2 linked regions of the Homo sapiens genome follow. The protein of the gene in region 2 purifies or fractionates together with the protein of the main gene of each other region. This does not show direct contact. Each region holds a gene or a part of one and is shown on either strand. Other genes may lie near its edges.

Region 1 (3,634 bases), on a different chromosome or scaffold from region 2:
TGCAGTGGCATGATCTCAGCTCACTGCAACCTCCGCCTCCCCAGTTCAAGTGATTCTCCTGCCTCAGCCTCCTGAGTAGCTGGGATTACAGGCGTGTGCTACCACACCCGGCTAATTTTTGTATTCTTTTTAGTAGAGACGGGGTTTCACCATGTTGGTCAAGTGGATCTCAAACTCTTGACCTTGTGATCCTCCTGCCTCGACCTCACAAAGTGCTGGAATTACAGGCGTGAGCCACCGCGCCTGGCCCTTTTTTTTTTTGAGACAGTTTCACTCTTGTTGCCGAGGCTAGAGCGCAATCGTGTGATCTCGGTTCACTGCAACCACCGCCTCCTGGGTTCAAGCAATTCTCCTGCTTCAGCCTCCCAAGGAGCTGGGATTACAGGTACCTGCCACCACGCCCGGCTAATTTTGTATTTTTAGTAGAGATGGGGTTTCACCATGTTGGTCAGGCTGGTCTTGAACTCCTGACCTCAGGTGATCTGGCCACCTTGGCCTCCCAAAGTGCCGGGATTAGAGGCATGAGCCACCACGCCCAGCCTTCATCACATCTTGAGAGAGGACACTGTCTGCCTCTTGCTCTGATGAGGGTCTGATGCAAGGATAGTGAGTCTCTACAGTGCACACTTAAGAAAGGCAGCATGTGGGTGCTCACAGGTCAGCGGAGGAGGGGGAGCTGGTGGGGACCAGGCATGCCTTGCTCCAGATCAGGATATGATGGCATTGGTGCAGATTATATTAGTATAGAATATGGTCTCAGGAACCAGGCAGGACTTTGGCTTCCGAGCAGGGTTCAGATCCCAGCTTGGCCCTACCTGTGCAGTGAGATCTCAAGCAAGTCAGCCTCTAAGCCTCAGGTTCCTCCTTTGCCAGTTCAACAGATGAGCTGGCCTGGGGTGGGCTGTGTGGTGATGGTGCTGGGGCTGGGTCCTCTGCCCCTGCAGGTGGTCTATGTTGCCCGAAACCCAAAGGACGTGGCGGTCTCCTACTACCATTTCCACCGTATGGAAAAGGCGCACCCTGAGCCTGGGACCTGGGACAGCTTCCTGGAAAAGTTCATGGCTGGAGAAGGTGGGCTTGACTGGAGGAAGGAGGGTGTGAAGCCGAGGGGTGGTGGCTATAACGTACAGCAACCCTGTGTCGGTGCCCCCTGCCCGCTTCTCTAGTGTCCTACGGGTCCTGGTACCAGCACGTGCAGGAGTGGTGGGAGCTGAGCCGCACCCACCCTGTTCTCTACCTCTTCTATGAAGACATGAAGGAGGTGAGACCGACTGTGATGCTTCCCCCCATGTGACACCTGGGGGCAGGCACCTCACAGGGACCCACCAAGGCCACCCAGCCCCGTCCCTGGGCGGCTCCCACAGCAAGCCCGGATTCCCCATCCTACCTCCCTGGCCCAGGCCCCCCCACTGCAGCCCCACCTGGCAGCAGGCTCGGCACAGCTTTCATCTTCTGCACCTGAGTCAGCTGCATGGGTGGCCACGGATCAGATACTTAGTCCTATTGCTTATCCTCACCAAAGGGTGTGCCACCCAGGGCCACAGTCATGGAAGAAGACCATCCCGGTCCTCACCCATAGGCGCCAAGCCCTGTTCATGATGGGATCACAGGGCAGAGATCAATTCATTTTACTCCAGAGACTAGGGCCCCAGGGGTTGAGGCTCTTTGGGGTTTCTAGGGGAAGTGGCCAGATCCCCTCTGAGGTTAGAGAGGGGGACCCGTTTTGTTTTGCTCCACTGAGGAGCCCTCTGCTGCTCAGAACCCCAAAAGGGAGATTCAAAAGATCCTGGAGTTTGTGGGGCGCTCCCTGCCAGAGGAGACCATGGACTTCATGGTTCAGCACACGTCGTTCAAGGAGATGAAGAAGAACCCTATGACCAACTACACCACCGTCCCCCAGGAGCTCATGGACCACAGCATCTCCCCCTTCATGAGGAAAGGTGGGTGCTGGCCAGCACGGGGGTTTGGGGCGGGTGGGAGCAGCAGCTGCAGCCTCCCCATAGGCACTTGGGGCCTCCCCTGGGATGAGACTCCAGCTTTGCTCCCTGCCTTCCTCCCCCAGGCATGGCTGGGGACTGGAAGACCACCTTCACCGTGGCGCAGAATGAGCGCTTCGATGCGGACTATGCGGAGAAGATGGCAGGCTGCAGCCTCAGCTTCCGCTCTGAGCTGTGAGAGGGGCTCCTGGAGTCACTGCAGAGGGAGTGTGCGAATCTACCCTGACCAATGGGCTCAAGAATAAAGTATGATTTTTGAGTCAGGCACAGTGGCTCATGTCTGCAATCCCAGCGATTTGGGAGGTTGAGCTGGTAGGATCACAATAGGCCACGAATTTGAGACCAGCCTGGTAAAATAGTGAGACCTCATCTCTACAAAGATGTAAAAAAATTAGCCACATGTGCTGGCACTTACCTGTAGTCCCAGCTACTTGGGAAGCAGAGGCTGGAGGATCATTTCAGCCCAGGAGGTTGTGGATACAGTGAGTTATGACATGCCCATTCACTACAGCCTGGATGACAAGCAAGACCCTCCCTCCAAAGAAAATAAAGCTCAAAATAAAATATGATTTGTGTTCATGTAGAGCCTGTATTGGAAAGGAAGAGAAACTCTGAGCTGAAAGAGTGAATGCCCGGTGGGGCCACATATGGTCACCTCTCCCCCAGCCTTCAGCTCCCCAGGTCACCATATCTGGGGAGGGGAGAAGGGTTTGGAGAAGTAAAACCCAGGAGATGTGTGGAGGGGGGATGTCTGTTTAATCCCAGCACATCCTCTGCTGTCCTGCCCCAAGATGGTGGAGGACGTCGAGTCCGCCGGGCAGCGTCACTTTTTCTTGGGCTCCTTAGAAGCTACCAGGTACCTCTGGGCCACACTGAGATGAGGGGAGTAGCCGTCTGCATAGGAGGTGTCTTCAAACAGGATAGAATAGTCCTCCTGGGGCTGTGGGGCAGGTGGACAGGAAGGGCAGAGAGCAGCCCCGGGGCTGGTGTCACTCACTTGTTGGTGGCATGGCTGTAACTGACCACCTCGGCCAGGATCCACTGCTCATCCCCATCCACGGCCTTCACCCGGGCAGCCACCTTGTCTCCAGGTCTGGCCACGTAGTCTCCTGAGGCAGGGATGGCCCCACAGAGGGGTGGGGGCCTGTGAGTGGAACAAAGGATCAGTCCCAGCCCCTGGGCACCAGCCCCTTCCTCGCAGCTGCTGCCCTCACTTGTCACCAGGCTTCCCAATCCACAGGGGCAGGGTCATGGCCGACTGCTGCAGCAGGGTCATCAGCACCCCTCTGCGCATGGTCTTCCGGGGTGGCTCCAAGTCATTGTAGAGACCCGCGATCTTGGCCACTGTGGGAAGAAAGGGAGGCCTGAGGCCCCAGGGACAGGGGCTGGCCCTGACCCCCCAGCATGCTGAACTGAGCTGCTGGAGGAGCACCTGGGAGCCCCCAGCTCCCGAGTGAGCCCGAGGGCACAGCAGGACTGTGACCTGATCTGCCAGGTGTCCTACAGGGGCTGCTGCGCTCAACTACATATGGGTGAGACGGCAGCACACCAGGCACCCAGGGGAAGGAACCAGGGAGGGACAAAGCGGGTTCTGAGGTGCTGGTGAGGTTCTCTTCTTGATGTCGGTGCTGACACAG
Region 2 (5,308 bases):
AGAGGATAACATGACCTGCCTGAAGCACTCACTAAATCAGAGACAGAGCAGGCCTGGGAGAATTCCTAGCCCAACTTTAACCCCACCACCCCACCTTCATTCAATCAATCAAATCTTTCTGGCACCTACTATGTGCCAGGTACTATGGCAGCTGGGGAGACATGGGCTCCTACCAGGAGAGACAGGCATCAAACAAGTGTGATAAGCGTTTCCGAGGACAAGTGGAGGGGGCGATATGACCAGAAATGGGGGGCAGGGAACACCACACTCTCTCAGGCTTGCCCGTCCTCCCTGAGATCCAGCTCTTCCCTCGGTTGCAGAAGATGTATATGAGAGGACCCTCACGGTGGATGGAGAAGACACCACACTGGTGGTCGTGGACACCTGGGAGGCCGAGAAACTGGTATGGCACTGCAAGCAGAATTTGGGGAGAGGGGTGCTGAGCCTAATACTAGACTCCTTCCTGTCCCCTCCTGGGGACACTACAGATCAGGTGTGAGCAACGGCCATCCTCAGCACCCTCCCCCAAAACCCACAGCTCCTAAGCAGTCTTTCCAATCCCAAACAGAAGACCCTTATGACCCTGACCCCTTTTCTCACTCCACAATCCCCTCCTAGCAGCCATCTCAGAATGTACTTCTCCCCCTGCAGATCTCCCCATCATTATTTCCACCCTCTTCCCACCCCTCCCACCCACATTGTACAGAAGGAACGCTGGATTTGGCCCCAAAATACCTAAGGCTGAACCCCCTTTCTTTTTCTTACTAGTTGTGTAGTTTTGTGCAATTGACTTAGCCACTCCGAGCTTCAGTTTTCTCATCTGATAAATGGGTTAACCATTCCTGCCTTCCTCATCAGCTAGTTTTTTAAAGTTCTTATGCAATTTCAGAGGTAAGCCCAGTTTAAAGCATGAAAAACTGCTGAATAGGGGTGAAGAATTGTAAATGATAACTCTTAGTAATTATGACTTGGTAGCTAGAGAAAAAGGAAATCAGGGCAGGAAGACAGCAGTAGGCAGGAATATGTCCCTATTATGATTTTATCTGGTTTGTGTTTTCTTTTCTTTTGCTACATGGGTAATACATGCTCATTGTAGAACTCTGAGGAAAAACACCTAAGCAAAGAGAAGGATCTAAAATCACCTGGGATCCCATCTCTCTAGGGGATAGGCTGCTCAAAAACTAAATGGTGAGTCTTCTGATTCCCATTCTACTGATGAGGAAACCAAAGACCAGAGCGGTTAAATAATAATAATAATGTGTCCAAAGCTCTCAAATAGCAAGTAAGATCCAAACCCAGATCTACAAAATCTTTGTAGATCTTATTCTTTTTTTTTTTTTTTTTTAGACAGAGTTTCACTCTTGTTGCCCAGGCTGGAGCGCAGTGGCGCCATCTCGGCTCACTGCAACCTCCGCCTCCCAGGTTCAAGCAATTCTCCTGCCTCAGCCTCCCAAGTAGCTAGGATTACAGGCACCTGTCACCATGCCCAGCTAATTTTTGTATTTTTAGTAGAGACAGGGTTTCATCATGTTGGTCAGGATAGTCTTGAACTCCTGACCTCAGGTGATCCACCCGCCTCGGCCTTCCAAAGTGCTGGGATTACAGGCATGAGCCACCATGCCCGGCCGAGGCTGTATTCTTATGCATTAGGACTGCATAAGAGTCCTCGTCTTATGACTGTCCTCCCCCTCAAGAGCATCACCTTCTGAACCTTCAGCTGAGGTTTCAGTCATTTGCTCATTCATTCATTCAGAAATACTTGCTGGGTGTCTATCATGGACCAGGACCTTGGAGACACAGAGATGAATAAGGCAGACAGGCCCTCTGGCTTCGTGGACCTCACAGGCTGGTTAGAGGGTCTACTTTTCATATGCAGCTGAGAATGCTATGGGGCAGTCAGTGTCCAGCAAGTTAAGATGGGTGATCAGACTGGGAGTCCCACTCAGGAGACAGGGGAGAAAGGATACTAGACTAGAAGGCGGGAGCTGGAACTCCACACCCAGCTTGCTTTCGCCTTGAGAACATTTTCTCCTCTTTTCTGGCCTTTTATTTTTGCAACCAGCAAAATTAGGAAACTGAACTAGTTTCCCTGATCGGTGACTGTGAAGAGAGGTCTCAAAGAGGGTCCAAGCAATAGCAGCATCATTGAAAAAAGTATCCATCCGTTCCGTCTGTGCGCTACATGGTACTCTGATATCAGAGAGGCTGAATCTGACAGAATTGGATGGGCCTTAGGACCTTAGTGTACCAGGTTGGCTGACCATCAGGACCACTTGGAGTGTATTAAAAATCAAATTATTGGCTGGGCGCGTTGGCTCATGTCTGTAATCCCAGCATTTTGGGAGGCCGAGGTGGGCAGATCACCTGAGGTCAGGAGTTTGAGACCAGCCTGACCAACATGGAGAAACCCCATCTCTACTAAAAATACAAAATTAGCCAGGTGTGGTGGTGCATGCCTGTAATCCCAGCTACTCAGGAGGCTAAGGCGGGAGAATCACTTGAACCTGGGAGGCAGAGGTTGCGGTAAGCAGAGATCATGCCATTGCACTCCAGCCTAGGCAACAAGAGCAAAACTCTGTCTCAAAAAAAATAAATAAATAAATAATAAAAATCAAATTATCAGGCCTCACCCTGGCCCTCACCCTCAGCCTGGGCAACAGAGCAAGACTCCATCTCAATAAAGATAGATAGATAGATAGATAGATAGATAGATAGATAGATAGACAGATACATACATACACACATACATACATACATACATACATACATACATACATAGATACTACAGCCCCACTTTTAGAGCTTCTTATTCTTTTATTTCTTTTCTTTTTTTTGAGATGGAGTCTCGCCCTGTCACCTAGGCTGGAGTGCAGTGTCGTGATCTCAGCTCACTGTAACCTCCGCCTCCCAGGTTCAAGCTATTCTTCTGCCTCAGCCTCCCGAGTAGCTGGGACTACAGGCACCCACCACCACGCCCAGCTATTTTTGTATTTTTAGTAGAGACAGGGTTTCACCACGTTAGCCAGGCTGGTCTCGAACTCCTGACCTCAGGTGATCTGCCCACCTCAGCCTCCCAAAGTGCTGGGATTACAAGCATAAGCCACCATGCCCAGCTGAGAATCTATATTTTTAATCACACTCCCAATAAGTTCATACCAACAAATCCATACACTAACTGGCTTTTGTGATCTTGAAATACAGCAAATCCTCCAAAAATATTTGTGCAATGAATGAATGAATGGTCAAGACTCACTTTCTCATTCTAGAGATGGGGAAAACTAAGACCCAAAGGAAGAAACCTGTCCATACTCAAGGTTGAGAACCCACATCTGTCTGACTCACCCTAAGGTTATTTGGCCTGGGAAATGATCAGTATGGCTGTTGAGAACTTACCCCCCTTTGACAATGACATTGACCACGAATCTGATGCTTTCCTATTCATCACCAAATTCCCATTTGGTTATCAGAAAATTTCTGGCTTCTGGCCGAGCACGGTGGCTCATGCCTGTAATCCCAGCACTTTGGGAGGCCGAGGTGGGTGGATCACCTGAGGTCAGGGTTTGAGACCAGCCTGGCCAATATCGTGAAACCCCGTCTCTACCAAAAACACAAAAAATTAGCTGGGCGTTGTGGCAGCTGCCTGTCATCCCAGCTACTCAGGAAGCCGAGGCAGGAGAATCACTTGAACCTGGGAGGTGGAGGTTGCAGTAAGCCAAGATCATGCCACTGCACTCCAGCCTGGGAGACAGAGTAGGACTCCATCTCAAAAAAAAGAAAAATGAAAGAAAATTTCTGGCTTCTTCACTACCTCACAACCACACACAGTCTTTCTCACTTCAGGCCTTAGCTCTGACTGTTCCCTTTGTCTGGAATCTCTTCCCTCCTGCTTGGCCTCCCCCTCCTTCCTAACCCCATTCGCCAGTCCCCTGTGAAGCCCTCGCACACTCTGCCAGGTGGGGTTGTTCTGGCCTCCCCACCCCACTCCTCCAGCCACTTACACATGTCTCTTACTGGTACTTTCACACTACACTATAACTCCCATTTCCATAAGCTCTCTTCCAGACCATGAGCTTTTGGAGGGCAGAAACCGTGTCTTACTCAACACTTATAAGGTTACTACCCAGGTAGTCCAGTCTTGGAGGGCTGTCCCTAACAAAAGATCACCATCCAAAATATCAAAAGCACTGCAGTTCTTTCTTTTTCTTGGTCAAACAACTTGAAAGGACTCCACTTCTTAAAGTGCCCCTTGACTGTCTCATCCCCTTGTGAACTTACACTTTACAGTTGCTCCTTCACCTCCATCTTCAAAACTGTCCTGAAAAATGCCTTCCCTCTAAAGTCAGCCTCCTGTCCTCACTTTTCTCTCTTTTTTCTCTTCATTCTGGATTTCACCAGGCATAAAGAACCATATGGCAAGACTAAACCCTCCTCAGAAACAAGACAAAAGAGCTAAACAGGTCAAGAGAGAACCCTCTTTAGCAGGAACAGGAACCAAGTAAATTTTGCCTGCACTACCCAGCCTGCAAAAGTATCAGTGAGTGAGAGAATTCTGTGAGGTAGTGTTATTAGCCTAAATTTTTAAGCAGAGAAACTGAGGCTCAGAAAGAATCACCAATTTTCCCAAGGTGACACAGGGAATTATAGCAGAAGTTGTCCCCCACACCTGTCCAAACTATAAACCTCAAGCTGCATCCCACCCATTAGACCATCCCAGCTCCACCTTCCTCAGCCAGGGCCTAGATACCCTCTGAGGATGGGTCTTGGGTCCCTCTCCTGCAGGATAAAAGCTGGAGCCAGGAGTCATGCCTGCAGGGGGGCAGTGCCTATGTCATCGTATACTCCATCGCAGACCGAGGCAGCTTTGAGAGTGCCTCTGAGCTCCGCATCCAGCTGCGGCGCACACATCAGGCAGACCATGTGCCCATCATCCTCGTGGGCAACAAGGCAGACTTGGCCCGCTGCCGAGAAGTCTCTGTGGAAGGTGAGCCCTCCATCCCACCACCTCCTCTTCACCTGGGCCCCACTGTCATGGCTGCTCCTCCAGCGCTCTTCATCTCAGTGACTGTCCCTGCCAAGCTGCCCCTACCCTGCAGCCACTTGCCTAAGCCTGCAAGCTGGGAACCATTCTTGCCTCCCACTCATCACCCCCAAACCAGTCCCCAGATCCTGTCAGGCCACCTCCATTAATTCCACATTCCCTTCCCTCTCTGCCTACAGTCTCTGTGCTATCCTGGCATCTCCACCTTCGCCAGTCCTCCTGCTTCTCAATTATTCCTCCTTGCCACCTGCCAGAATTTTCCAAGACCAG

What was found. Proteins that work in one complex are often made in the same cells at the same time.
Region 1: the proteins of REM1 (region 2) and SULT1A4 fractionate together in Homo sapiens (co-fractionation; one large-scale study listed by BioGRID). This does not show direct contact.

Annotation. Positions count from the first base shown.
Region 1 is NC_000016.10:29,462,401-29,466,034, forward strand, and holds the end of SULT1A4 (sulfotransferase 1A4), read left to right. Parts: intron 1-944; coding exon 945-1,071; intron 1,072-1,166; coding exon 1,167-1,261; intron 1,262-1,759; coding exon 1,760-1,940; intron 1,941-2,062; coding exon 2,063-2,175; 3' UTR 2,176-2,566; downstream 2,567-3,634. UniProt on the Homo sapiens protein: Sulfotransferase that utilizes 3'-phospho-5'-adenylyl sulfate (PAPS) as sulfonate donor to catalyze the sulfate conjugation of phenolic monoamines (neurotransmitters such as dopamine, (R)-adrenaline/epinephrine, (R)-noradrenaline/norepinephrine and serotonin) and phenolic and catechol drugs.
Region 2 is NC_000020.11:31,477,508-31,482,815, forward strand, and holds part of REM1 (GTP-binding protein REM 1), read left to right. Parts: intron 1-296; coding exon of another isoform or gene 297-320; coding exon 321-403; intron 404-4,779; coding exon 4,780-4,981; intron 4,982-5,308. UniProt on the Homo sapiens protein: Promotes endothelial cell sprouting and actin cytoskeletal reorganization. May be involved in angiogenesis. May function in Ca(2+) signaling.